Linked DNA regions of Homo sapiens. The protein of the gene in region 5 interacts with the protein of the main gene of each other region in a biochemical or structural test. Each region holds a gene or a part of one and is shown on either strand. Other genes may lie near its edges. The genes, in order: AKAP10, PDGFRB, KCNV1, PRKCA, GRIP1, CFTR and TJP1.

Region 1 (3,500 bases), on a different chromosome or scaffold from region 5:
GCCGAGATGGCACCACTGCACTCCAGCCTGGGGATAAGAGCAAGACTCCATCTCAAAAAAATAAAATTAAGGTAAAAAAAGCCTACTTACGGCCGGGTGCGGTGGCTCACGCTTGTAATCCCAGCACTTTGGGAGGCCGAGGCGGGCGGATCACAAGGTCAGGAGATCGAGACCATACTGGCTAACATGGTGAAACTCTGTCTCTACTAAAAAATACAAAAAATTAGCCAGGCGTGGCGCCGTGCACCTGTAGTCCCAGCTGCTGGGGAGGCTGAGGCAGGAGAATGGTGTGAACCCGGGAGACAGAGCTTGCAGTGAGCCAAGATCGCGCCACTGCACTCCAGCCTGGGTAACAGAGCAAGACTCCGTCTCCAAAAAAAAAAAAAAAAAAAAAGCCTACTTATTATATGCTAGATGTTAAAGCATTATACAGGTTAAAGAGGGAAATAAATCAAAATCATAAGTAATTATAAAATAAGGCAGAAATGATTAATGCCAAAAGAGAGAGTATAACAGGATTAAAGAACTCACAAATGCAAAGCACATCACTTTTTAATGCAGTGGACTGCCAAGGGCAGAACTTACCTTTAATGGACTTCACATCTGAGGTCTTCTCTTGTTCTTTGCCTTTCACTAGAACATAAAAAGATAATTATGACCAACTTTTGCAGTCAGAGATCCATTCTATAACACTGTAAAAATTAGACCAGCTTTATTCTAAGATGAGTATTCAAAGTTCTAGAACAATGGACAGCCTTGGAGGAGGGCACAGGAGGGTAGTTGTCAGCAAAGGCTTCTCTAAGGAAGTGACCTTGGAACAGCATCCAGTCAAAAGAGTTGAACCTGCTTATGGAGAGACAATGTAGTCACAACATCTGGGGTCAAATTCTGGCTCTACCACTTATAAGCCATGTGATCTTGGACAAGTTACTTACTTCTCTGGGTCTTAATTTTCTTGATTTATAAAATTAGGTCAATAATAAAAACTACCTTAGAGGATTATTGATGAAAAAAAATATATACCTGTAAGGGGCTTAGAAGAGTAACTAGCACAGTAAATTGAGGACAAATGCTAACCAATATTATTACCATGTGTCATCCATAGTACTAGCTACTAGAAGCATAGTGAAGAAAGGTCTTTGGTTGTGTATCATATCTTATTACTTATTCCTCCCATAGCATCAAGTGAAAACATCCTAAGCCTCTAACACTCAGAGTATAATAATTTGTCTGGGCCAGGCACGGTGGCTCACGCCTGTAATTCCAGCACTTTGGGATGCCAAGGCGGGTGGATCACCTGAGGTCAGTAGCTCAAGACCAGCCTGGCCAACATGGTGAAACCCCATCTCTACTAAAAATACAAAACAATGAGCTGGGTGTGGTGGCGGACACCTGTAAGCCCAGCTACTTGGGAGGCTGAGGCAGAGAATTGCTTGAACCCAGGAGGCGGAGGTTGCAGTGAGCCGAGATCGCGACACTGTACTCCAGCCTGGGAGACAAAGAGAGACTCCGTCTAAAAAAATAAAAGATAAAGAATAATTTGTCTGTAAAATAATCATATAATTGCTTCCTTACTACATAAAACAGTAAAAATTCTGCTGTAGATAAGCTAATATGACATCCAAGATAGGAAGGTGCCCAGCAGCTTAAGCCAAGTGTGAATTCTATCACAGGATCTGACATAAGACTATTTTTAACCCTCTTTTCTTGTTTTTTTTTTTCAACATTAAAAAATCTTACCAGGAAAAGGTTATCAAAATAAGAAATGCCAAAACGTGCCCATCTCTGTATTTGTGCTCTTAAACATTGAAAGGTGAAAGGCTAGTAGCAGGAAATAACTCGCCCTCAGAGTATCTGGATGAAGTCAATACATCAACTGTTGAGTGCTTGGTATGTGCCAGACATGCTCCCAGCTCAGAAAAGGCAATGATTTTGCCTTCAAAAAGTCTACATTCAAGTGTGTGGAGACTAACATGAAAAAAATAAATAAGATCGTTGCAGGTACTGATCACTGCTGTCAGGAAGACGACATTTAAAAATGTTGTAGGGTCACTGGTGTTTGCAGCCCTCTCAGCAGCATCTGCCCATGGACTACATCACTCACTTTAAACATTAACTTGTCTTGGCTTCCTTGACTCCTCTCTTCTGCATATACATCTGTATTTCCTGGCTGATCCTACCCATTCTTAAGGCTTACAATACCATAGATACGCTGTTACTCCTAAATTTATATCTCCATCCTAAATCTTTTATCTCAAATTCATATAGCTAACCACCTACCTGCCATCTTCCATAATTCCACTTGTCTAAAAGGGAACATGTCATCTTCTCCCAAACCTGTTCCTACCTCAGTCTTCATCTTCCCTCATGAATGACACTGTCATCCACCCACTACTCAGACCAAAATTCCGGAAGTCATCCTTAACATGGTCTGTTTATTACCTTCCACATACAAACTATGACCAACTGATTCTACTGCCAAAACAAACCACCACGGTTCCACTTTTACCACCTAAAAACATTCTCCTACTATCAATCAGATCTCCTATGTTATACTTCTAACATATACACAACTCAACAATCAAATATCAGCATTTTGCTTTATTTCCTTCTGTCCCCCTAAGTATTATACATAGACTTTAGAGTTCCTATGAATCACCACCTGACCCTTCCTTTCCCAGATATAAATACTTACTAAATTAGATATTTCCTGGCCAAGCGCAGTGGCTCACACCTGTAATCCCAGGACTTTGGGAGGCCAAGGCGGGTGGCTCACTTAAGGTCAGGAGTTCGAGACCAGCCTTGCCAACATGGTGAAACCCTGTCTCTACTGAAAACACAAGAATTAGCAGGGTGTGGTGGCGGGTACCTGTAGTCCCAGCTACTTAGAAGGCTGAGGCAGAAGAATCGCTTGAACCCGGGAGGCCGAGATTGCGGTGAGCTGAGATTACACCACTGTACCCCAGCCTGGGTGACAGAGCAAGACTCTGTCTTAAAAAAAAAAAAATAAATAAATAAATAAAGACATTTTCCTTCCATGTACGTTTTTTGACTATGACCACATACAAATACTTTTTATTTTTATTTTTTTGAGACACGGTCTTGCTTTGTTGTCCAGGCTAGAGTGCAGTGGCCTGATAACACTCGAACTCCTGGGCTCAAGTGATCCTCTCATGCCACCATACCTAATTATCCTTTCTGTTGTTGAGATGGGGTCTTGCTATCTCGCCCAGGCTAGTCTTGTACACCTGGGCTCAAGTGATCCTCCTGCCTCAGCCTCCCAAAGTGCTGGGATTACAGGTGTGAGCCACCACACCCAGCCAAACGTGTATATATATACATGTATGTGTATTTTTTTTAATGGCATTATTCTGCACATCTTTAAAAATCACGCAAATGGCTGAGCACGGTGGCTCACGCCTGTAATCCTAGCACTTTGGGAGGCCAAGTTGGGTGGAACACTTGAGGTCAGGAGTTCAAGACCAGCCTGGCCAACATGG
Region 2 (3,500 bases), on a different chromosome or scaffold from region 5:
AAGAGCCCTGCATTTCCATTTTGTGCTTGCCCCACAAATTATGTAGCTTGTCCTGCCAGGGAGTTCAGGCTGAGTTTGGGACGGCTTCATCCCCAACACTGGCCTTGCAGCCTCCACTGTCCCCATCCTAATCCACAGCCTCCCACTAAATGCCAGCCTGCTGGTGTCATCCTCCTGCATGGAGGCCCCCTCCCCACAGTGCCTGGAGTTACAGCATTGCCCTGCCAAGCCAGCAGCTACTACCCGCCATCACTATCAACACCTTGAAAAGTTGGTGGTCCAGAGAAAATCCTCACACAGCACCGCAGACCTTTCCTGAAGTCTCCCTGCCTCCTTCCCTGGCCTCCTGCTGCCTCCTTCCCAGGCCATCACCTACCTGTTTGCTGAAGAGCCCCAGTTTCTAGCCCAACAGATCTCTCCCTGCCATTTCTCCCAGATGCCTTTCATCTCTCACAGAGCCCTGGCCATACCTTTCCCTGGCATCATCTGCCAAAAAACTCAAGAAACCCTGGAGGCCTAGCTCAAGGCCACCTCCCTCAGGAAGCCATACCCGCTCTCCCCACTGGAGTAATCATATACTGTTGTTAGTCACCATTTACTGGGCACCTATGATGTGCCAAGTGCTGTGCGTCATCATCTCTGGCCCTCCCAGAAATGGAAAAGGAGGTCTCCCATGCCATTTCCCAGGAAATTGGGACTCAGATAAGTTAAACTCAGAGAACTGGGGCTTGGACCCAGGAATAAGTGGCTTCCAGCTGGAACCACTGCTCCCAGCCTGGCGGGGCTCCCATCCCTGCCCTGGATGGCATCAGGCGCAGCCTGTTGGCTTCAGAGTGCCATATGTCTGTTCTGCCCTCACCAGCTCATCTCCATCACCTCCCTGGAAGGAAAGAGTCACCATTGCCTATCCATGCCAGTTCCCTAGCCTAGTGAATCCTGTGTTATTAGGAGGCAGCCGAGGGCCCAGGACTGAAGAGCTGACCCTACAGAGCCATTTAATCTCTCATATCGTGTAAGCGTTTACTGAGCACCTACTGTAGGCCTAATTCCATATTAGGAAGTTGAAGAGAGTCCAGATCGTTGTTAGGTAGGTATCCTGATTTGTGGGAAGTCATATTAAAGGACTAAGACAAAAGTTCAGGAAAGAAGTAATTGACAGACAGTGGTGATTAGATGGGTCTGGCCTTAGGTTGGCCACCGAATCGCCGAGTGTGCTAGGATGAGACACTCCTCACTGAGCCTCAGGACACTGAAAAGGGCTGTTGCTACTGATTGTACCAATAATCAGCAGCTACCTCTTCCTGAGGAGCGTCTTTTGGGAGAGGCCTTCTTGCACCGTCTCATTTATCACATGCATCACTTTGCTGAGAAGCCTAGTCCCGTGGAGTCTTGGCTGTGCGCGCAAGGCCGAGTGAGTGAGTGACTTCTTCTCCCTTGAGTGAATGAATAATAATAATGTGGCCACCAACTTTGCAGAGGGCTGTGTGCCAGGCCCTATTCTAAGCATTTTGCTTGTGTTAACTCCTTCAATAGCCCTGACAACCCAGTGATGAGCCCCAATCTACAGATGAGAAAACTGAGGCACAGAGGGGTGGTTAAGTGAATGACCGAAGACAGGGGTGGGAGGACAGATGCTGAGACAGTGAGAGGGTCAGTGAAACATGGGGGTTCTCTGCCCTCCTGCTCTGCCGCCCAGGAGGGCTCTGAGGGGAATCTCAATGTTTGGTAATTGGCACTGATAAGTGAAGGGTTTACTCATTAGCTAGCTACCCCTCCCCTATTTGCAGGCCCTGGGCCTGTGGGGGAAGGCTGTGTGCTGGTGGGTCAGTGTGAATGGCCCAAGGCCTGCCTGTCCCCTGCCCACTTGGCTCTGAGAACCCATTCTATTTGCGGCCCCCACCCCAGCCCATGGCTGCTCCGGGCTGGCAGCAGCCCGGGGAACAGAAGGTTTGCTTGTCTGCGCCTGCCGCACCCCCCTCCTCAGTCTCAGCCTGGGACCCCTCTCAGGGGCTCCTTTGGCTGCCAAGGGCCTGGCACTCCCTGTTGCCATGGCACCGGCCGGAGATGAGGCTCTGGGGGGTGGGGATGGGGAGGGCAGCAGCAGGATGGTGGAGGCCTGGAACTCTGCAGCTACAGAGGCCCTGGCCCTCTGCAAACAGTGGAAGGGGGTGCTGGGGCCCCCACAGGGGCAGGCCTGGACCCTGTGCACAGCAGGCCTGTGGCAGAGCCGGCCACACACCTGGGCTGATTGCCTGGATGCTGTATCCCGCAGGAGCACTGCCCCTGCCAGACCCTGGCTTTCCTAAGCAAAAACTCTCTCCTCAGCCTTGTGTGCTCACCCTCAGCCTCTGCAGCGAAATTGTGGAGTTCTATCCCTAGTCCTGGGTTCTATCCCTAGCTCGACTTTAAAATTATTGGTGACCCGGGGCAGGCCTCCCGCATACACTGCCCCTCAGTCAGAGCAGAGGCGGGACCCAGATCCCTGAGGATCTTCTCATCCCTGAGATCCTGGATTCCGTATGGACGCCATTAGAGGGAGAACGTTTCTCTGTGGACAGATGGACAGAACTGTTTCTGGTCAGGAGACAGACAGTCTGGCATGACGGGCAAGAATTCAGGTTTTGGCAGTTGTGGTGATGCGCACCTGTAGTCCCAGCTACTCAGGAGGCTGAGGCGGGAGGATCACTTGAGCCCAGGAGTTTGAGGCTATAGTGAGCTGTGAGCTATGATCATGCCACCACACCACTGTACTCCAGCGTGGGCAACAGAGCGAGACCCTGTCTCTAAAAAAAAGAAAGAATATAGGCTTTGGAGTCAGGCCGGCCTGAGTTTGCATTCCCGTTCCTTTGCATCTTACTTATTGTGTGACCTTGGGAAAGTTACCAAAAGTCTCTGAGACTCATCATTCTCCTCTGTAAAATGGGAATAATGAGTGTACCCCCCTCACAGGGTGGTCGTGAGGATGAAACAAAATCTCCAGATCATCTCATTTAGCAGAGTGCCTGGCTCTAAATTAGTAGGGACTTTTGTTTGTTTCCAGATTGGGGGGGATCAGAACAATAACTAGAAAGATGTCCTGTATTTGGGGAGAGGGTGGTTGGTGGATAGAAGCAAGACCAATAAGCAGAGAATACAGTGAGATAAACTGTACTCAGTGTAATTAACAATTCTCAATAGTCTGCCCTCTGAAGATTCTAAGCTGGCTAAGAATGAAATGGGCCACAGGTGAGGTGGTGAGAGCCCTGTCATGGGAGGTGTGCAATTGCAGAGAAGGTGGGGGAGATGTGAATAGAGGGAATGTACTAAGACTGTAGGGCTCTGTGAAAAATGGAGTGACTGTTTCCCACTCAAACTGTCAGCTTCAGCTTTACCCAGCTCAAAAGACAGCGTGAAAGAGTGAAAGGAGAAGTTGGGACAAAGAAGGCGAAAAGATAAGGCTGACGACTTTATTTTTTAATTTATTTTTTTGAGACGGAGTTTCACTCTTGTTGCCCAGGCTG
Region 3 (4,062 bases), on a different chromosome or scaffold from region 5:
AGTTAACCAAATGGATGGCTGTCAAAAGAACCATGCTTATAAATATTATAGTTTAAAAAAGTTTATTGAAGTCCCCCATTTATTCTCAGAGGATTACTATAAGCTCCACAACAACAGAGATCTTGTCTATTCTTCATTGATACATCGCAAGTACCTTGAATAGTGCCAGTATATAGTGAATGCTCAGTAAACTTTTGTTGAAAGAGTGATGAAAATACCTCATTAAACTCCTGTCCTTCATTAGAAACTTGTAAACAAAGAAAATAAAAACAATCACACTGATTTATCAACAAAAAATAATGTTTCTAGAATTTTGTTTATGAAGGCAGCCTCTGACATGTAGTCCTGGGTTTGATTTGAACTGTGTGGCCCTTTGCAAATCACTTAATTTCCCTGTGCCTCACTTTTCCTTTCTGTAAAATGGATATATGCTACCTCATAGTGTTGTCATTATGATTAAATAAGGTACTGCATGAATAAAGAGCCTACAAATTTCCTGGCATAAAGTAAGCACCCATTAAATGTTGGGTGTTTTCATTAAAGCTTGAAATTTCACTGAGGAAGGCACTGAGACCCTCAAAGTAAATGATAGCTAGACGTCCCACAGCCAGTTGGCAAAGCTAGAACTAAACAGTCACGTTTCTGTCCAATCTATGAAAAAGCTTATTCTACTACATCAGGCTGCCTGCTTATGTCTTTATATATACTACCTAATACGTGTGTGTGTGTATGCTTTCTAATATATACTTATATATGTAAGTGTATCCATAATATATGCTTTCCAATATGTATTCTATATATACATACTAGAAAACAACGAAGATGAGTGTGGTTCACTCTCTCTGGCAAAGACTTGAAAAATGCATGATTCTGAGATGCCTGCTGAAAATGTGAAAACCTTGAACCATGCCAAATGAAGCAGTTAATATAACTGCCCTAACCTCAAGTTTAGCACACTGATCCAGTTGGAAATTTTGCTCTGGAGCATTTACAAAAGCACAGATCCGGGGAAACGGGAATCAAATGCAGTAATTCTGCAAGTGTATTCAGGATGAATGTAATATTGAGTGTCACCGGGCACCTCACTACCCCCCGCCTCCACCCCCGCCGTCTCACCTCCCTCCCTTAGATCCTGCCACTCCCCTCTGCTGGTGCTGGAAGCACTGGGCGAGTGGCTCTCAGAGCTAGAGCGGGCGGGGCGGACACGCTTAGCGTAAGCGCAGGGGCCAGGAGCCCGGAGGGAGGTGGAGGCGGGGCAAGGCAAGGCAGCAGGCGCTGGGTAGAGCTCAGCTGGAACACAGTTTCCCTCCTGGACCGGTCGAGTCAGACCTCACGTGTAGACTAAGAGGATCAAAAGAAGAGTACGTTACCTGCGGCGCCGGTTGTGCGCAGACCAGATGTGCCGGGAGCTGCAGGTGAGTCACTTGCTCTTCCCTCCCACCCCCACCTCCTCACCCCGAGTCCAACAGGTTGGCTGGAGCGCAGCTTCCAGGGGCCCCGTGGGTACACTTCTAGTCTCACCTGGGCGCTGGCCTCGGCTTCTCCCTTTACCGAGGGAGGCCGTCGTTACTATTTAAATTCCTGCCCCAGCCCACGCTTGTTCTATTCCTTGTCTTTTTGCCTTTCCTTCTAAAATGAGAGCTCCGCTGTGCTCAGAACACCTGCTCTCCGGGAAACTTGTAGGGACAGAAATGGTTAAAAGGAAGGGTGCCTCAAAAAAGTGCCTCAACACGAGGTGGACCCTCGACAGGGTGGGAGCTGACAGTGACACTCCTAGTTCTTAGTGACCCACTGGGTCTTCAATAAAAAGTCATCATTAATTATTCTTGTTTCTCAACCAGGAGGTCAGAACCTAAGGGAGACGGCGGAAGAAAATGGAGCGTCAGTGATCATCAGACTAGAATGAGAGTGAATTGGGAGAAAATGGTGCGGCCCCCTCACCCAGAGAACCCTCCCCCACCTGCTCACACCCCCAGCGAACACCCCGGGGGAGGCCTATGAAGCAGCAGTAAAAGAAAAGGGAGGAATATAAATTCTCAAGTTGGAAGGGACCCGGTTACCACTTCCTTTGCTTTCTGAACTTTTTGTTTTGGTCTCCTGCGGGCAGGAGTGAGTCTCGCCATCCCCCTTGCTTGCTTGCTTGCTTGCGTTCAGCTAAGAGTCATCTTCTCTCCTCTTCCTCCTCCTCCGCCCCACATCTCCCTCCTTCCTCCCTTCCCCAACCCCTCCACCCACCAAGTAGCGAGTCATTCAATCTGTACACCTCCTGGGCTGGGAATCGCAATTGCGAAGTTGGGAGGCGGGGTGACAACGTTTGGGAAGGGCCAGGGCGACCGGCAGTGTGCACAGGGACTGTGTCGGGCTTGGACCTCACCTGATCCTCTCTCTTAGCGCGACCCTTCCTCTGCTCCCTGTCTCCTCTTTCTGCCACTTGTGCGCTGCTTCCGCGCACTCCCGGCTCCCTAGCGGCAGGAGGAGGAAGGCGCACAGCGGGTGGAGAGGGTGCGCCAAGGAGAGGTAACCCCTTCGGGAGCCCGGGGAATCCCGGCCGCCACCAGGGGCCGTGCCACCGCCCTCGCGGGACCAAAGCTTCCGGCGTGTCCCCAACTTTGTGGCGCCCTCAGGCCGCGGCGACTGGGTTAGAGATGCCTTCCAGCGGCAGAGCGCTGCTGGACTCGCCGCTGGACAGCGGCTCCCTGACCTCCCTGGACTCTAGTGTCTTCTGCAGCGAGGGTGAAGGGGAGCCCTTGGCGCTCGGGGACTGCTTCACGGTCAACGTGGGCGGCAGCCGCTTCGTGCTCTCGCAGCAGGCGCTGTCCTGCTTCCCGCACACGCGCCTTGGCAAGCTGGCCGTGGTGGTGGCTTCCTACCGCCGCCCCGGGGCCCTGGCCGCCGTGCCCAGCCCTCTGGAGCTTTGCGACGATGCCAACCCCGTGGACAACGAGTACTTCTTCGACCGCAGCTCGCAGGCGTTCCGATATGTCCTGCACTACTACCGCACCGGCCGCCTGCATGTCATGGAGCAGCTGTGCGCGCTCTCCTTCCTGCAGGAGATCCAGTACTGGGGCATCGATGAGCTCAGCATCGATTCCTGCTGCAGGGACAGGTACCCCGGAGGCACGCGGCGGCTGGGCGGGGAGGCGGGCGCGGCAGAGAAAGAGAGGAAGGCACAGGTAGATTTGAGGCTTTACACAAGCTTCGCTGGAGCCAGGCCTAGCAATAAGGTGTGGCCACTTCTGGGCTGACAGGTGGGGTGGGGGTGGGGGACTGGAAAGCATCAACGCCAACTTTTGAATAGAACTTTTTGAATCTCTTTGTTCCCTTTTTTGAGTATGCTAATTTAACGTATAAGGCAAGGGACTTCAGGCCCACAATAAATATTTGGTGACTGAATAAATGAATCAGAAACGCCATGCTCCAAAAATGCATGCATAGGGATAAAAGATTTGGCACGCAGCATTATCATTTATCAAACCTAGAACACTGACTTTGAAAAACTTGAATGGAGAATTGTTTTAAATATAGAAGATAAAAGGTTGGTCCCTTGATTGAATGATTGTGGAACTCTGAGGTTACCTTGCTATTACTACCATTTCTTCATGAATACATTTCCTTTACACACACACAAAAAAGTTCCACCTGCCAAACATCTGTTCTTACCAGAAAATGGGTAATAAAATGTATTAATCCAAAGTAGCTTTACTATGTATACACTTCTACTAAGAAAGTGTCATTTTAAAAATTATAATCCAGGCCGGTCGTGGTGGCTCACGCCTGTAATCCCAGCACTTTGGGAGGCCGAGGCGGGTGGATCACTTGAGGCCAAGAGTTCGAGACCCCCCCTGGACAACATGGTGAAACCCTGTCTCTACTAAAAATACAAAAATTACCCGGGGGTGCTGGTGGTGCGTACCTGTAATCCCAGCTACTCAGGAGGCTGGGGCAGAAGAATCGCTTGAACCTGGGAAGCGGAGGCTACAGTAAGCCGAGATCACTCCGCTGCACTCCAGCCTGGGCGACAGAGCAAGACTCCGTCTCAAAAAAAAAAAAAAAAGGAAAAAT
Region 4 (3,500 bases), on a different chromosome or scaffold from region 5:
CAACTGCCTTATAAAAACACTAGCAGCACGTGCTGGCCTCTCGCCTCGGCTGGGTTCTGTGCAAAACCCCATACATTTCACCTTCCTGACAGCCTTGGGCAGGAGGTGTGATTGTTCTCCCAGTGTTACAGATGAGCAAACTTGGTGGACCCCACTTCACAGTTAATCCAGAGCTATTCTCTGTTAGAGACCCAAGGATGCCTGGTTAGTTTGAAATGTGTGCTAGCTCAGAGTTAATTCATATTGGCCCTGTGGTGCTAGCAGCAGGTCCAAGGGCAGTAATTGGCAGCATCTTGAAAATCATTCTTAGGATCCTTAGTGAAACTCCCAGCTCTTCCTGCTTCAGAGTCACCCTGGGCTCCCGGGGACTTCAACACGCCACTACCCTTGTGGGTGGCTGACAAGGTGAAGAGAACACTCCTTCCCCACTTTTGGGGTCAGGCTACCAAGCCGTGCTGCCTAAGCGGCTGTGTGTCTCAGCGACCCCAGTGCAACAGTTCTGCCTGGAGTGGACCCTGGAGGAGAGGAACAGCCGAGACAGCAGGCCTCTCCCTGCCTCCCCAGGGCGCCATGCAAACATCCTCCAGCCTGAGACCACCCTGCAAATAAGCTCCAGTCAGTCACCCAGCCTGCCCGCTGGCCAGCTCTGTCTAGGTGTGCTAAATCCTAGCTGGGCCAGGTGCAAATCTCCCAGCCTTGCCGCCACACCTACCTCATATCGCTTGAAGCTTAATTTAGGGGCTGGGGTTGCTGGAGCAGCCCAGTAGGAAGGCAAGGATAACACAGTTTTTACTTCACTACAAATATTGCGGCAAAAAAACAGATGTGGGGCAGTAACTCACCCCGTCGCTTGGTCCAGGGGTAACTGCCTGCAGCCCCAGCCGACATCCTGGCCTTTCAACACGGAGCTGTGACTGACGGCCCTGCGTGCGTGGCTTCCGTGCTCTCAGCTCCGCTTGCTCGGTGAGGTGGACGTGAGGGGACAGGGGCTGTCCCCTTGTTGCTGCCTCATTGCCAGCCGTGCAATTCCCACCCAGGGCTTCTGTTCGGGGTGTTTCAGGGTTTACAGTTGGGTAACTCGTTGTTGTCTGCTGTGCCTGGCTTTTCAATCCAATAGGCCTGCAAGTCCTCCGAGATTCCTCCTCCTAACCAGCCCGGAGTTCCCCAGGGCCGTGCCCCTCCCCAGAGAGGGCCCTCGGAGAGCTGCTCCCGCATTGTCATGTTGACTGACCTTTCCTTCTTTTTGTCTTTTCTCCACAGTGTGGCAAAGGAGCAGAGAACTTTGACAAGTTCTTCACACGAGGACAGCCCGTCTTAACACCACCTGATCAGCTGGTTATTGCTAACATAGACCAGTCTGATTTTGAAGGGTTCTCGTATGTCAACCCCCAGTTTGTGCACCCCATCTTACAGAGTGCAGTATGAAACTCACCAGCGAGAACAAACACCTCCCCAGCCCCCAGCCCTCCCCGCAGTGGGAAGTGAATCCTTAACCCTAAAATTTTAAGGCCACGGCCTTGTGTCTGATTCCATATGGAGGCCTGAAAATTGTAGGGTTATTAGTCCAAATGTGATCAACTGTTCAGGGTCTCTCTCTTACAACCAAGAACATTATCTTAGTGGAAGATGGTACGTCATGCTCAGTGTCCAGTTTAATTCTGTAGAAGTTACGTCTGGCTCTAGGTTAACCCTTCCTAGAAAGCAAGCAGACTGTTGCCCCATTTTGGGTACAATTTGATATACTTTCCATACCCTCCATCTGTGGATTTTTCAGCATTGGAATCCCCCAACCAGAGATGTTAAAGTGAGCCTGTCCCAGGAAACATCTCCACCCAAGACGTCTTTGGAATCCAAGAACAGGAAGCCAAGAGAGTGAGCAGGGAGGGATTGGGGGTGGGGGAGGCCTCAAAATACCGACTGCGTCCATTCTCTGCCTCCATGGAAACAGCCCCTAGAATCTGAAAGGCCGGGATAAACCTAATCACTGTTCCCAAACATTGACAAATCCTAACCCAACCATGGTCCAGCAGTTACCAGTTTAAACAAAAAAACCTCAGATGAGTGTTGGGTGAATCTGTCATCTGGTACCCTCCTTGGTTGATAACTGTCTTGATACTTTTCATTCTTTGTAAGAGGCCAAATCGTCTAAGGACGTTGCTGAACAAGCGTGTGAAATCATTTCAGATCAAGGATAAGCCAGTGTGTACATATGTTCATTTTAATCTCTGGGAGATTATTTTTCCATCCAGGGTGCCATCAGTAATCATGCCACTACTCACCAGTGTTGTTCACCAACACCCACCCCCACACACACCAACATTTTGCTGCCTACCTTGTTATCCTTCTCAAGAAGCTGAAGTGTACGCCCTCTCCCCTTTTGTGCTTATTTATTTAATAGGCTGCAGTGTCGCTTATGAAAGTACGATGTACAGTAACTTAATGGAAGTGCTGACTCTAGCATCAGCCTCTACCGATTGATTTTCCTCCCTTCTCTAGCCCTGGATGTCCACTTAGGGATAAAAAGAATATGGTTTTGGTTCCCATTTCTAGTTCACGTTGAATGACAGGCCTGGAGCTGTAGAATCAGGAAACCCGGATGCCTAACAGCTCAAAGATGTTTTGTTAATAGAAGGATTTTAATACGTTTTGCAAATGCATCATGCAATGAATTTTGCATGTTTATAATAAACCTTAATAACAAGTGAATCTATATTATTGATATAATCGTATCAAGTATAAAGAGAGTATTATAATAATTTTATAAGACACAATTGTGCTCTATTTGTGCAGGTTCTTGTTTCTAATCCTCTTTTCTAATTAAGTTTTAGCTGAATCCCTTGCTTCTGTGCTTTCCCTCCCTGCACATGGGCACTGTATCAGATAGATTACTTTTTAAATGTAGATAAAATTTCAAAAATGAATGGCTAGTTTACGTGATAGATTAGGCTCTTACTACATATGTGTGTGTATATATATGTATTTGATTCTACCTGCAAACAAATTTTTATTGGTGAGGACTATTTTTGAGCTGACACTCCCTCTTAGTTTCTTCATGTCACCTTTCGTCCTGGTTCCTCCGCCACTCTTCCTCTTGGGGACAACAGGAAGTGTCTGATTCCAGTCTGCCTAGTACGTTGGTACACACGTGGCATTGCCGCAGCACCTGGGCTGACCTTTGTGTGTGCGTGTGTGTGTGTTTCCTTCTTCCCTTCAGCCTGTGACTGTTGCTGACTCCAGGGGTGGGAGGGATGGGGAGACTCCCCTCTTGCTGTGTGTACTGGACACGCAGGAAGCATGCTGTCTTGCTGCCTCTGCAACGACCTGTCGTTTGCTCCAGCATGCACAAACTTCGTGAGACCAACACAGCCGTGCCCTGCAGGCACCAGCACGTGCTTTTCAGAGGCTGCGGACTTTCTTCCAGCCATTGTGGCATTGGCCTTTCCAGTCTTGGGAGGAGCGCGCTGCTTTGGTGAGACACCCCCATGCAAGGTCCTCAGAGT
Region 5 (3,500 bases):
TATATGAAGTTAAGCTTTACAAATTCAACTTAGTGTAACATTCCTACTACTTGGCTAGAGACATCATCCATCCATCCATTCTTCTGATTATCTATCTACCCATCCATTCATCCTCCCATCCCTCTTGTCATTCTTTTATTTATCCACCCATCCATCCTTCTTTTCTTTCTTCCTCCCTTCCTCCCTTCCTTTCTTTCTTCTTTCCTTCCTTTCTTTTTTATATCCATCCTTTCATCCATTCATTCATCCATCCGTCTATTTATTCCTGGTAGGTGCTAAGATATTTATTGAATTAAGTAATTAATTTAAAAAACCTTTACTGAGAGACCTAGTATATGCTCGGCATTGTGCCAAGCACTGTGGAGGGGATAAAGATACATAAGATATTATCCCAAGTGACATGAAGCTTAAAATCTCATTGAAGAGATGAACATTACACATACATTAACACAATACAAGCTGAATGGAACAGGTGTGTTAAGAGGTGCCCTATGAATTTATTATTGGCTGTGGGGATATTATATGGAGGGAAATCTAAGTTTCAGTGATAAAATTAACAGGCTAACACCAAACTGAATATTCTTCATCTCTTTCTTTTGTCTCTTTGCTTATTTGTTTTATTTGTTTTGTTTTCTAAAATTTGTTCTTTGACAGACTCTGTGGCAACAGCATCCGGGCCACTACTAGTCGAAGTTGCCAAAACTCCTGGTGCCAGCCTTGGGGTTGCCCTAACTACCTCGATGTGCTGTAACAAACAAGTCATTGTCATAGACAAAATCAAATCTGCAAGTATTGCAGACAGGTAAGTATTGTAGAAAGTGCCTACTTTTCCGCCAGGCGCAGTGGCTCACGCCTGTAATCCCAACACTTTGGGAGGCCGAGGCGGGTGAATCACCTGAGGTCAGGAGTTCGAGACCAGCTTGGCCAACATGGTGAAACCCCATCTCTACTAAAAATACAAGAAATTAGCCAGTCATGGTGGCAGGTGCCTGTAATCCCAGCTACTCGGGAGGCTGAGGCATGAGAATCACTTAAACTCGCGAGGCAGAGGTTGCAGTGAGCTGAACCATTGCACTCCAGCCTGGGCAACAAGAGTGAAACTCCATCTCAAAAAAAAAAAAAGAAAGAAAGAAAGAAAGAAAGTGCCCCTTTACAAAATTGCATGTGTGCAATTTTAAATATATATACATACATATGTACACACACTTGTAATACACATATACACATGCATATACACATACACACACACACACACACAGTTCTCTTGCCAGTTTATACAGGTTTCACACACAGAAGCAAGTTACTGTTACAGGGCTTAAAAATTCACCTATGTGTCAGCCACCCCATGATGTCACTTCACGTCATCCAGATGTTTGGTGTGGCCTTTAGCAATAGAAAAAAAAATCAAGCAACTAAGCAAGTTTTCTTACTGTGTCCTAGGGCACTAGCCTGTTCTTAATGTAGGGTAGCTGAGTAGATCTTTCTTAAACCCCATGCAGAGCAGTGATGGGTTTTCCTGAATTGTTGACAATTAAATCCTGCTACCATAAAATCTGATTTCTTTGTTTCTTAAATAAATAAAACAATACTTTTTAAAATATTTTTTACAATACTTTTAAAAAGTCCTATACTCTCATAGCATGTTAATCTTAGGATTTTACAACCTTCGAGGGTGTCTTAAAACATCATTCGCTTCAATGCCACAATAAAAATGAAATTTCATGTTTCTAATTAATATTTTATACTCGTAAGGTAAAAGGGGAAGATAAAAAAAGACTACCTTTCCATCTAATTAATTATTTTACAGCTCCTGGTAAGAAAAACCTCATCTCCCATAGCTAAAGCACTCCAAGTGCAAAAAATGTGGAATTATGTTTTTAGTTGGAAGATATGACTTGAAATGCTTTTGTCTTGAGACGTAGACTATTCACACTGGGAATTTATAGATATACTGCACCTGAATGACCAGTCTCCCCTGTATGTTTCCAGCCCTCTTCTCCACGTGCCCCTCAACCTGCCTTTCCACCTCCAGCCATGGTGCAGTGAACTGCAGCAACCCCCCGTAGTGGTCAGTCTACATCTCCATTGTGGTCTTACCCAACATTCAGTCCTTATCAGTGACAGCCATTGATCCAGGGGTGTTGTGCAGTTCAATGGCACAGGATGCTTTAATTTTCTCCCTCTGTTTTTTCCCATTCCACAGGGGGTAACCAGTTTAAGGAGCTGTTCACTTGACTGGTATGTGGGGATGCTGACGACTGCGCTAGCTTTTCTTAACTCATCCAGTAGCCAGCTCTTGAGTTCAGCAAGATGTAGCAGCTAGCCCCTTCCCTGCCCCCATCTTTCCCCTTGACTCACCATGCAGGCCTGGTTTTATTACTCACTTGACTCCTGCATAATTTCTACCATTATCAAGAGCTTTTATACTAATACATGTTCAACTCCAGAATAACATAATAATAAAGAACTGGTGATCTTGGAGTTTGTGTGAGGATTCCAAGGAAGTATTACTGAAATCTCCCCAAGTTATTCTTCTTTACACATAAAATAGACCCTATTCCAATTCTGAGAGTCATGTTTGAGATTCTGAAGATTTACCCACTCATGTTTATAGATAGAAAAGCCTAGAACAAAAAAACACAGACAAAAGTCCAGGGGAAACATTTTCCTGTTTTTCCCTTTCCTCTTGCTCGCTTTCCCTCAACTTTCCACACAAGCACTCCAAAATAAGATTTTTTTTTTAAAGAAAGACAAGAGAAAACATTTCGTTGAATTTTTCTCTATTTTCCACAAGGTTTTACTTCCTTGTTCATATTCAAGGTACTTAAAATTTGGCAGATGGTGTTTCCTATAACACTCAAACTTTTCTTTTCTTTTATTTTAAGTAAATGAAAAACTGTGAAATTTTAACTATGAAGGACATGAAAGTCAGATTCCAAAGAGGAAGGCACTGCCTCTTACCGAGTATTTCTCCTTTCCGTAGATGTGGCGCATTGCATGTGGGAGATCACATCCTCTCCATCGATGGAACCAGCATGGAGTACTGTACACTTGCAGAAGCAACCCAGTTCCTGGCCAACACCACTGACCAGGTCAAGCTTGAGATCCTTCCCCATCATCAGACCCGGCTGGCCCTAAAGGGGCCCGACCATGGTGAGATGGTCCACCTGGATCAAGCTCTTTCTCTGGCCCTCACAGTGTTGCTCCCTCTAGCAGAGTTAGACAGCAGAAAGACACTGGGTCTCATTCTGCCTTTTTTTTTTTTTTTTTTTTTTGAGATGGAGTCTCACTCTGTCCCCCAGACTGGAATGCAGTAGCATGATCTCGGTTGACTCCAACCTCTGCCTCCTGGGTTCAAGCCATTCTCCTACCTCAGCCTCCCGAGTAGCTGGGATTACAGGTGACCGCCACCATGCCCAGCTAATTTTTGTATTTTTAATAGAGACAGGGTTTCACCATGTTGGTCAGACTCATCATTTCTTTTCAAAACAAGGTTATGT
Region 6 (3,500 bases), on a different chromosome or scaffold from region 5:
TTTTGCACTACTGAAATTTTATACCTGTTGATTAGTATCTCCCCATTTCCCTCTCTCCCCTGTCCTGTTACCCATGGTTCTGTTCTTTGCTTCTTTGAGTTTGAGTATTTTGATACCTCATGTAATCTTCATTCTATTTTCTAACTTTGACAATGTTCTGACAAATTTGCTTTCCGGATTGGAGCACTGTATAGTGAAAATTGAAAATCTTGGTTATTTTCTACAGATTCCCACTATTTTACCTTGAGCAGACACTTATCTTGAAGGGTCTCAGATTTGTCACTTGTAGAATGGGGAATATAAACCTGATAATGGTCCCTTTCAGTTCTAAAGTTATATCAGTTGAAAATACATGTGTCACTTATGGTAACGGGTAGAGAACTGGCTCACTGAACAGCATATGGATATTATAAAGTGGTTTTTTTTAATCCTTTCTGCAGACAGTTACTTTATACTTTATTCAAATGGATTATTGTGAAGTACATGTTAGCGGACTTTGTACCTTTTAAAAATGTATGTATTTGGTGTAATGTAGAAATATAGAAATTTATTAAGTATGATTTATTTCAATGTTAAGCATGAGAAAATATGCTCCGAAAGGTTAGATAGCTTGCCTAAATGACAAGCTTGTATTTCAAGCAGAACTTTCTGAATCAAAAGACTCCAAGACGAATGCCCAGCTTTCAAAAACTGTCTAACCAAAATAAATCCTAAGATTCACCTTCATACTAAAATTATTTAAAAATAGTTTATTTTAAATTAATATTCACTTAAAATGTATTTATCATGCAATACTTTAAAGTGTCTGGGAAATGAAAATATCCAAAGATCAAAGAACACCATGTTTTCAAACTTCAAAAATGTTATCAGTGACCTAAACAATTTTTAAAATTTTCATAGAGCCTATGAAAAATGTACTTGCAAATGGCTACTTTCTGACTAGGAATAGAATGGGGAGAGTATTTAGTCCAACAATGATAGACTGGATTAAGAAAATGTGGCACATATACACCATGGAACACTATGCAGCCATAAAAAATGATGAGTTCATGTCCTTTGTAGGGACATGGATGAAATTGGAAAACATCATTCTCAGTAAACTATCGCAAGAACAAAAAACCAAACACCGCATATTCTCACTCATAGGTGGGAATTGAACAATGAGATCACATGGACACAGGAAGGGGAATATCACACTCTGGGGACTGTTGTGGGGTGGGGGGAGGGGGGAGGGATAGCACTGGGAGATATACCTAATGCTAGATGACGAGTTAGTGGGTGCAGTGCACCAGCATGGCACATGTATACATATGTAACTAACCTGCACAATGTGCACATGTACCCTAAAACTTAAAGTATAATAAAAAAAATAAAAAAAAGTTTGAGGTGTTTAAAGTATGCAAAAAAAAAAAAAGAAATAAATCACTGACACACTTTGTCCACTTTGCAATGTGAAAATGTTTACTCACCAACATGTTTTCTTTGATCTTACAGTTGTTATTAATTGTGATTGGAGCTATAGCAGTTGTCGCAGTTTTACAACCCTACATCTTTGTTGCAACAGTGCCAGTGATAGTGGCTTTTATTATGTTGAGAGCATATTTCCTCCAAACCTCACAGCAACTCAAACAACTGGAATCTGAAGGTATGACAGTGAATGTGCGATACTCATCTTGTAAAAAAGCTATAAGAGCTATTTGAGATTCTTTATTGTTAATCTACTTAAAAAAAATTCTGCTTTTAAACTTTTACATCATATAACAATAATTTTTTTCTACATGCATGTGTATATAAAAGGAAACTATATTACAAAGTACACATGGATTTTTTTTCTTAATTAATGACCATGTGACTTCATTTTGGTTTTAAAATAGGTATATAGAATCTTACCACAGTTGGTGTACAGGACATTCATTTATAATAAACTTATATCAGTCAAATTAAACAAGGATAGTGCTGCTATTACTAAAGGTTTCTCTGGGTTCCCAAATGATACTTGACCAAATTTGTCCCTTTGGCTTGTTGTCTTCAGACACCCTTTCTTCATGTGTTGGAGCTGCCATTTCGTGTGCCCCCAAACTCTACTTGAGCTGTTAGGGAATCACATTTTGCAGTGACAGCCTTAGTGTGGGTGCATTTTCAGGCAATACTTTTTCAGTATATTTCTGCTTTGTAGATTATTAGCTAAATCAAGTCACATAAACTTCCTTAATTTAGATACTTGAAAAAATTGTCTTAAAAGAAAATTTTTTTAGTAAGAATTAATTTAGAATTAGCCAGAAAACTCCCAGTGGTAGCCAAGAAAGAGGAATAAATATTGGTGGTAATTTTTTAAGTTCCCATCTCTGGTAGCCAAGTAAAAAAAGAGGGTAACTCATTAATAAAATAACAAATCATATCTATTCAAAGAATGGCACCAGTGTGAAAAAAAGCTTTTTAACCAATGACATTTGTGATATGATTATTCTAATTTAGTCTTTTTCAGGTACAAGATATTATGAAATTACATTTTGTGTTTATGTTATTTGCAATGTTTTCTATGGAAATATTTCACAGGCAGGAGTCCAATTTTCACTCATCTTGTTACAAGCTTAAAAGGACTATGGACACTTCGTGCCTTCGGACGGCAGCCTTACTTTGAAACTCTGTTCCACAAAGCTCTGAATTTACATACTGCCAACTGGTTCTTGTACCTGTCAACACTGCGCTGGTTCCAAATGAGAATAGAAATGATTTTTGTCATCTTCTTCATTGCTGTTACCTTCATTTCCATTTTAACAACAGGTACTATGAACTCATTAACTTTAGCTAAGCATTTAAGTAAAAAATTTTCAATGAATAAAATGCTGCATTCTATAGGTTATCAATTTTTGATATCTTTAGAGTTTAGTAATTAACAAATTTGTTGGTTTATTATTGAACAAGTGATTTCTTTGAATTTCCATTGTTTTATTGTTAAACAAATAATTTCCTTGAAATCGGATATATATATATATATGTATATATATATATATATATATATATATATACATATATATATATAGTATTATCCCTGTTTTCACAGTTTTAAAAACCGATGCACACAGATTGTCAGATAGCAATTCTGTGATTGAAGGGGAAATATGTCACCTCTTCATACTCATATTGGTGAAGGGTCCTAGCTTCAAAATTAATAGATTCCTAAAGAGGGGAAATGAAACATCCGCATTTACACACACACACACACACACACACACAGAGTTCCTCTTGTCGGTAAGTTTTGTTTTTTTTAAATCTCTACTAGATAAAATTTGTTATCTAATTGTGAGTTTTACACAAAGAAAAACTGTCACAGAAAAGAAAGACAGTGTCACATTTTTCAAAAGAAAAAGAAGAAAAGAAAGTGCCATGTTTTTCAAATACAAATGTTCTGGATTGATTTTAGGATCTTTAGTGAAAAACAAAGTATTTCATAATAAGTAAAATAAAAATCTATGTAGGTAAATTTGTTTCTCTAATTT
Region 7 (3,500 bases), on a different chromosome or scaffold from region 5:
ACCTCATGATCCACCCACCTCGGCCTCCCAAAGTGCTGGGAGTACAGGCGTGAGCCACTGCGCCCAGCCTTTTTTTTTTTTTTTTTTTTTGAGACAGAGTCTCACTCTGTTGCCCAAGCTGGAGTCCAGTGGCACGATCTCGGCTCACTGCAAGCTCTGTCTCCCGGGTTCACGCCATTCTCCTGCCTCAGTCTCCCGAGTAGCTGGGACTATAGGAGCCCGCCACCACGCCCCGCTGATTTTTTTGTATTTTTAGTAGAGATGGGGTTTCATCGTGTTAGCCAGGATGGTCTCGATCTCCTGACCTCATGATCAGCCTGCCTTGGTCTCCCAAAGTGCTGGGATTACAGGCACGAGCCACTGCGCCTGGCCATATAATCTTTTTAAGGTTGTATTCTATTTACCAAATATGTAAAACGATAAATAAGAGATATCTTTAAACTAAACACCTGAGCCTTCTTCTGACAGGAATGAATGTGTTTAACGGTGTTTAGTAAAAATAATAACTAAAGGGTACACCCTTCTGCCTTACCAAAGGTGAGCTCCTATGGCTCAGTGCCTAGCTCACTTTAGGCTAGTCACCATTTAGATGTTACTGTGATAACTGTGTAAATGAATTCCTGTAACACTGTAAATGTAAATGAATTCCTAATGACAAATCCACATCTGTTTTTGTTCTTGTGGGTTTTGTTCTGTTGAGGTATGAACCCAGCTGTGCACCTGTGTGGGTTTATATTGTGCTAGCTCACTTCAGTCCAGACACCATCTAGATGCCACAACCCCTTTCTAGTGTTGTGCTAAGGGGTGGTTCACAACACTAGTACAAGACACGTTTTGCATTTAATACAACCCCCACTGCAGCACTCTCAGTTTGCATTTGGATTCTCATAAACTGCTTTCTTCTGTAAACATAAAGCCTTAAATATAGGACAGTGAAAAAAGTCTTCACTACAAAGGATGTCTTAGAAAAAAGCAGTGGTAATTAAAATTAGGTTTTAATGTTAGTGGTTTTAAAGTATGTTCTAAAACAATTTACACTCAATAGTAAATGACAAATAGGTCATTTCCCAAGATAATCCCAAGCCCACGCAACTAAGTAAGGAAAAATCTAGGTGCTTTTAATATAGACACAATACTATGTGTGATGAATTCTAATATGTCAATCTGGCTAGGTACTGCCATGAAGGGATTTTTCAGGTGTAATGTCCCCAAGTCAGTTGAGGGGAGATGGTCTTGGGAGGGCCTGGCCTAATCAGCAGAGCCCTCTGAATGAGAATTTAGGCCTTCCCTGATCTCACACTCCCCAGTAGCTCAAAATCTTCCCTTCCTGACCAACTGCCCTCTGAAATAGGACTTGCTTAGCCAGCCCCTGTAACTGTGTAAATGAATTTCTTTTGACAAATCCACATCTGTTTTTGTTCTTGTGGGTTTTGTTCTATTGAGGTATGAATCTACCTGTGTGCCCGTGTGGGCTTAGACACAACTATCAGTACCAAATTCTCTTATCAGTCAGGGTTCAACCAGAGACACAGAACCAGTAGGAGACACAAACCCACGCAGGCACAAGAAAGGAGAACAAACCAACACGAAACCCAGGGATGAGTAAACGGAGGGGAGCAGCAAGCACAGGGAAAAGATGACTGGGAGTCAAGAAACTTGGGGTTCAGTCCCAGCTCTGCCCTGTCATTTTCCCTCACCTGTAAAACTGGATCAGAAATCTTACAAAAACAAAAAACAAAAAACCTCTTCAGTATTTCCCTCAAACAGGATCCTCCTCACATCTGTATTTATATTTAAAAAATAAAAACAGAAAAGAAAAAGAACCAGCATGACATCATTAGGTGTGTGTACAGAAGTGAAGACTGATGATTACCTATCGATGAGGGTCCTTGTGGTTGACACTGTCTTCCGTCAAAACCCTGTGATGTTAGCATCTTTGTGAATGCAAAAACTATGTACATCTAATAGCAGACTTTAAAAACAAAACACACATCCCAGAACTAAAAAGTATGTACAATGCTGAACCACTAGAGCCTACAGAAATCATATATTACACTTAAATTATTTTTCTTCAAAATATATTGAACTGCACGGGATTAATATGCTGCATCCTATTTTTAAAAGCCAGGTGAAATAGCTTACTTTGAAGAATAACTAGAAAAATTTGATTGATTCTGAGAATGCGCTGGCTTTGCAGGCTCGGAGAGATGGCTGGCGGCAATGTGTGCAGGAGGCTTATTCTCAAAACTTCTTCGGTCAAAGTATGACAGCTGTTTTCGATAATATTCTTCATCTTCTTCAGGGTCATAATGATTGGACCGAACAATATCTTCAGGTGGCTTCAGTTGAGGTTTTTGAGGTTCTGGGATCCTAACAGATAATGAATGACAAACGGAACACCTTTTTAAATATTAATGTTATGAAGGAAGTAGAATATGTAAGTCTTATCTTGACTAAAAGGTCAATAATTACTAACTGCTGTGATTACTGAGGATCTGAGCAGTCCCAACAGTTAAAATGGATATTTCAAATCCCATGTCCTCACAGAGTATACTCAAAAGGCAGCCCCCTTCTGGCTCATGAGTCCTTTAACACAATATAATAAGCTAAACGATTACATGATTAGGGAACAGCAGGTTAGAAGTAGTTAATCAGAAAGACAAAGGGCAATGTAACCGAGACAGTGAACATCTTGAGAAGTACATATACCAAGGTCAAGAACAGTAAATGATAGACTTTAAGAACTTTCAAAGGGATTTTTAAGAACTCAGTCCAGGATCTCAATGATTCTCATATGAACAAATAACTCTATATGGTCTAAAGTTCTAGAAGGCATACAAAGCAGATGAGGAAGAAAGCAAGTCATTAAGTAAATTCATATTAGACAGTTCTCTTCTTTATCCTAAGTGCAAACATATATTCAGTCAAAAAACAAAATCAGAAGAGCTGTATTCAAATCTAATCTGTCACTTATTGGCAGTGCAATGAGGCCATGGGAAAAAGCTCAGGCTGAGGAGCAGCAGGCCAGGTTTCTCTTCCAGCTCTAAGTCTTGTAAGCTACTTGCCCCTCTCAGCCTCAGTGTCTCTCTCTACAATGCAGAACAACAACAGTGTCACCTCATTATGCTGATGTGCTTAGCACAAGGGCAAGCACCTTATGCATGCTCACTAAATGATTTAGTTATCTTAACCAATCTGAGTCTGTTTCCTCACCACTGGAAACTAAGAGTTCACATGTCGAAAAGCACTTTTAAAACTAAAAAACATAATACAAATGTCAGAGCTTAAAAATGTTTATTTAATCATCTGCTTGGAGAATATCTTTCCGAAAGTCTGCTAAAGGTATAAAGATTTGTCAGATTTGTCAGAAATAAAGTTCTACTTTTTTTCCCCCTAGAATCACTGTTTAGGAGAGCTGATAGTTTTTATTTAAGGACAAACTCCTCCTATTCACACCTCTCCTCTACTAACACAGTAAAAGGTTTTCTTATTGACTAAGA

The links.
Region 1: the proteins of GRIP1 (region 5) and AKAP10 interact in a test that uses a peptide from one of them, tested with the Homo sapiens proteins (one large-scale study listed by IntAct).
Region 2: the proteins of GRIP1 (region 5) and PDGFRB interact in a test that uses a peptide from one of them, tested with the Homo sapiens proteins (one large-scale study listed by IntAct).
Region 3: the proteins of GRIP1 (region 5) and KCNV1 interact in a test that uses a peptide from one of them, tested with the Homo sapiens proteins (one large-scale study listed by IntAct).
Region 4: the proteins of GRIP1 (region 5) and PRKCA interact in a test that uses a peptide from one of them, tested with the Homo sapiens proteins (one large-scale study listed by IntAct).
Region 6: the proteins of GRIP1 (region 5) and CFTR interact in a test that uses a peptide from one of them, tested with the Homo sapiens proteins (one large-scale study listed by IntAct).
Region 7: the proteins of GRIP1 (region 5) and TJP1 interact in a test that uses a peptide from one of them, tested with the Homo sapiens proteins (one large-scale study listed by IntAct).

What each region holds. Positions count from the first base shown.
Region 1 is NC_000017.11:19,967,829-19,971,328, forward strand, and holds part of AKAP10 (A-kinase anchor protein 10, mitochondrial isoform 1 precursor), read right to left. Parts: intron 634-3,500; coding exon 586-633; intron 1-585. UniProt on the Homo sapiens protein: Differentially targeted protein that binds to type I and II regulatory subunits of protein kinase A and anchors them to the mitochondria or the plasma membrane.
Region 2 is NC_000005.10:150,145,846-150,149,345, reverse strand, and holds part of PDGFRB (platelet-derived growth factor receptor beta isoform 1 precursor), read left to right. Parts: intron 1-3,500. UniProt on the Homo sapiens protein: Tyrosine-protein kinase that acts as a cell-surface receptor for homodimeric PDGFB and PDGFD and for heterodimers formed by PDGFA and PDGFB, and plays an essential role in the regulation of embryonic development, cell proliferation, survival, differentiation, chemotaxis and migration.
Region 3 is NC_000008.11:109,972,972-109,977,033, reverse strand, and holds the start of KCNV1 (potassium voltage-gated channel subfamily V member 1), read left to right. Parts: upstream 1-1,262; 5' UTR 1,263-1,415; intron 1,416-1,841; 5' UTR 1,842-2,645; coding exon 2,646-3,106; intron 3,107-4,062. UniProt on the Homo sapiens protein: Potassium channel subunit that does not form functional channels by itself. Modulates KCNB1 and KCNB2 channel activity by shifting the threshold for inactivation to more negative values and by slowing the rate of inactivation.
Region 4 is NC_000017.11:66,802,613-66,806,112, forward strand, and holds part of PRKCA (protein kinase C alpha type), read left to right. Parts: intron 1-1,260; coding exon 1,261-1,425; 3' UTR 1,426-3,500. UniProt on the Homo sapiens protein: Calcium-activated, phospholipid- and diacylglycerol (DAG)-dependent serine/threonine-protein kinase that is involved in positive and negative regulation of cell proliferation, apoptosis, differentiation, migration and adhesion, tumorigenesis, cardiac hypertrophy, angiogenesis, platelet function and inflammation, by directly phosphorylating targets such as RAF1, BCL2, CSPG4, TNNT2/CTNT, or activating signaling cascade involving MAPK1/3 (ERK1/2) and RAP1GAP.
Region 5 is NC_000012.12:66,462,577-66,466,076, reverse strand, and holds part of GRIP1 (glutamate receptor-interacting protein 1), read left to right. Parts: intron 1-654; coding exon 655-802; intron 803-2,983; coding exon 2,984-3,153; intron 3,154-3,500. UniProt on the Homo sapiens protein: May play a role as a localized scaffold for the assembly of a multiprotein signaling complex and as mediator of the trafficking of its binding partners at specific subcellular location in neurons.
Region 6 is NC_000007.14:117,609,025-117,612,524, forward strand, and holds part of CFTR (cystic fibrosis transmembrane conductance regulator), read left to right. Parts: intron 1-1,494; coding exon 1,495-1,645; intron 1,646-2,556; coding exon 2,557-2,784; intron 2,785-3,500. UniProt on the Homo sapiens protein: Epithelial ion channel that plays an important role in the regulation of epithelial ion and water transport and fluid homeostasis. Mediates the transport of chloride ions across the cell membrane.
Region 7 is NC_000015.10:29,714,469-29,717,968, forward strand, and holds part of TJP1 (tight junction protein 1), read right to left. Parts: intron 2,371-3,500; coding exon 2,143-2,370; intron 1-2,142. UniProt on the Homo sapiens protein: TJP1, TJP2, and TJP3 are closely related scaffolding proteins that link tight junction (TJ) transmembrane proteins such as claudins, junctional adhesion molecules, and occludin to the actin cytoskeleton.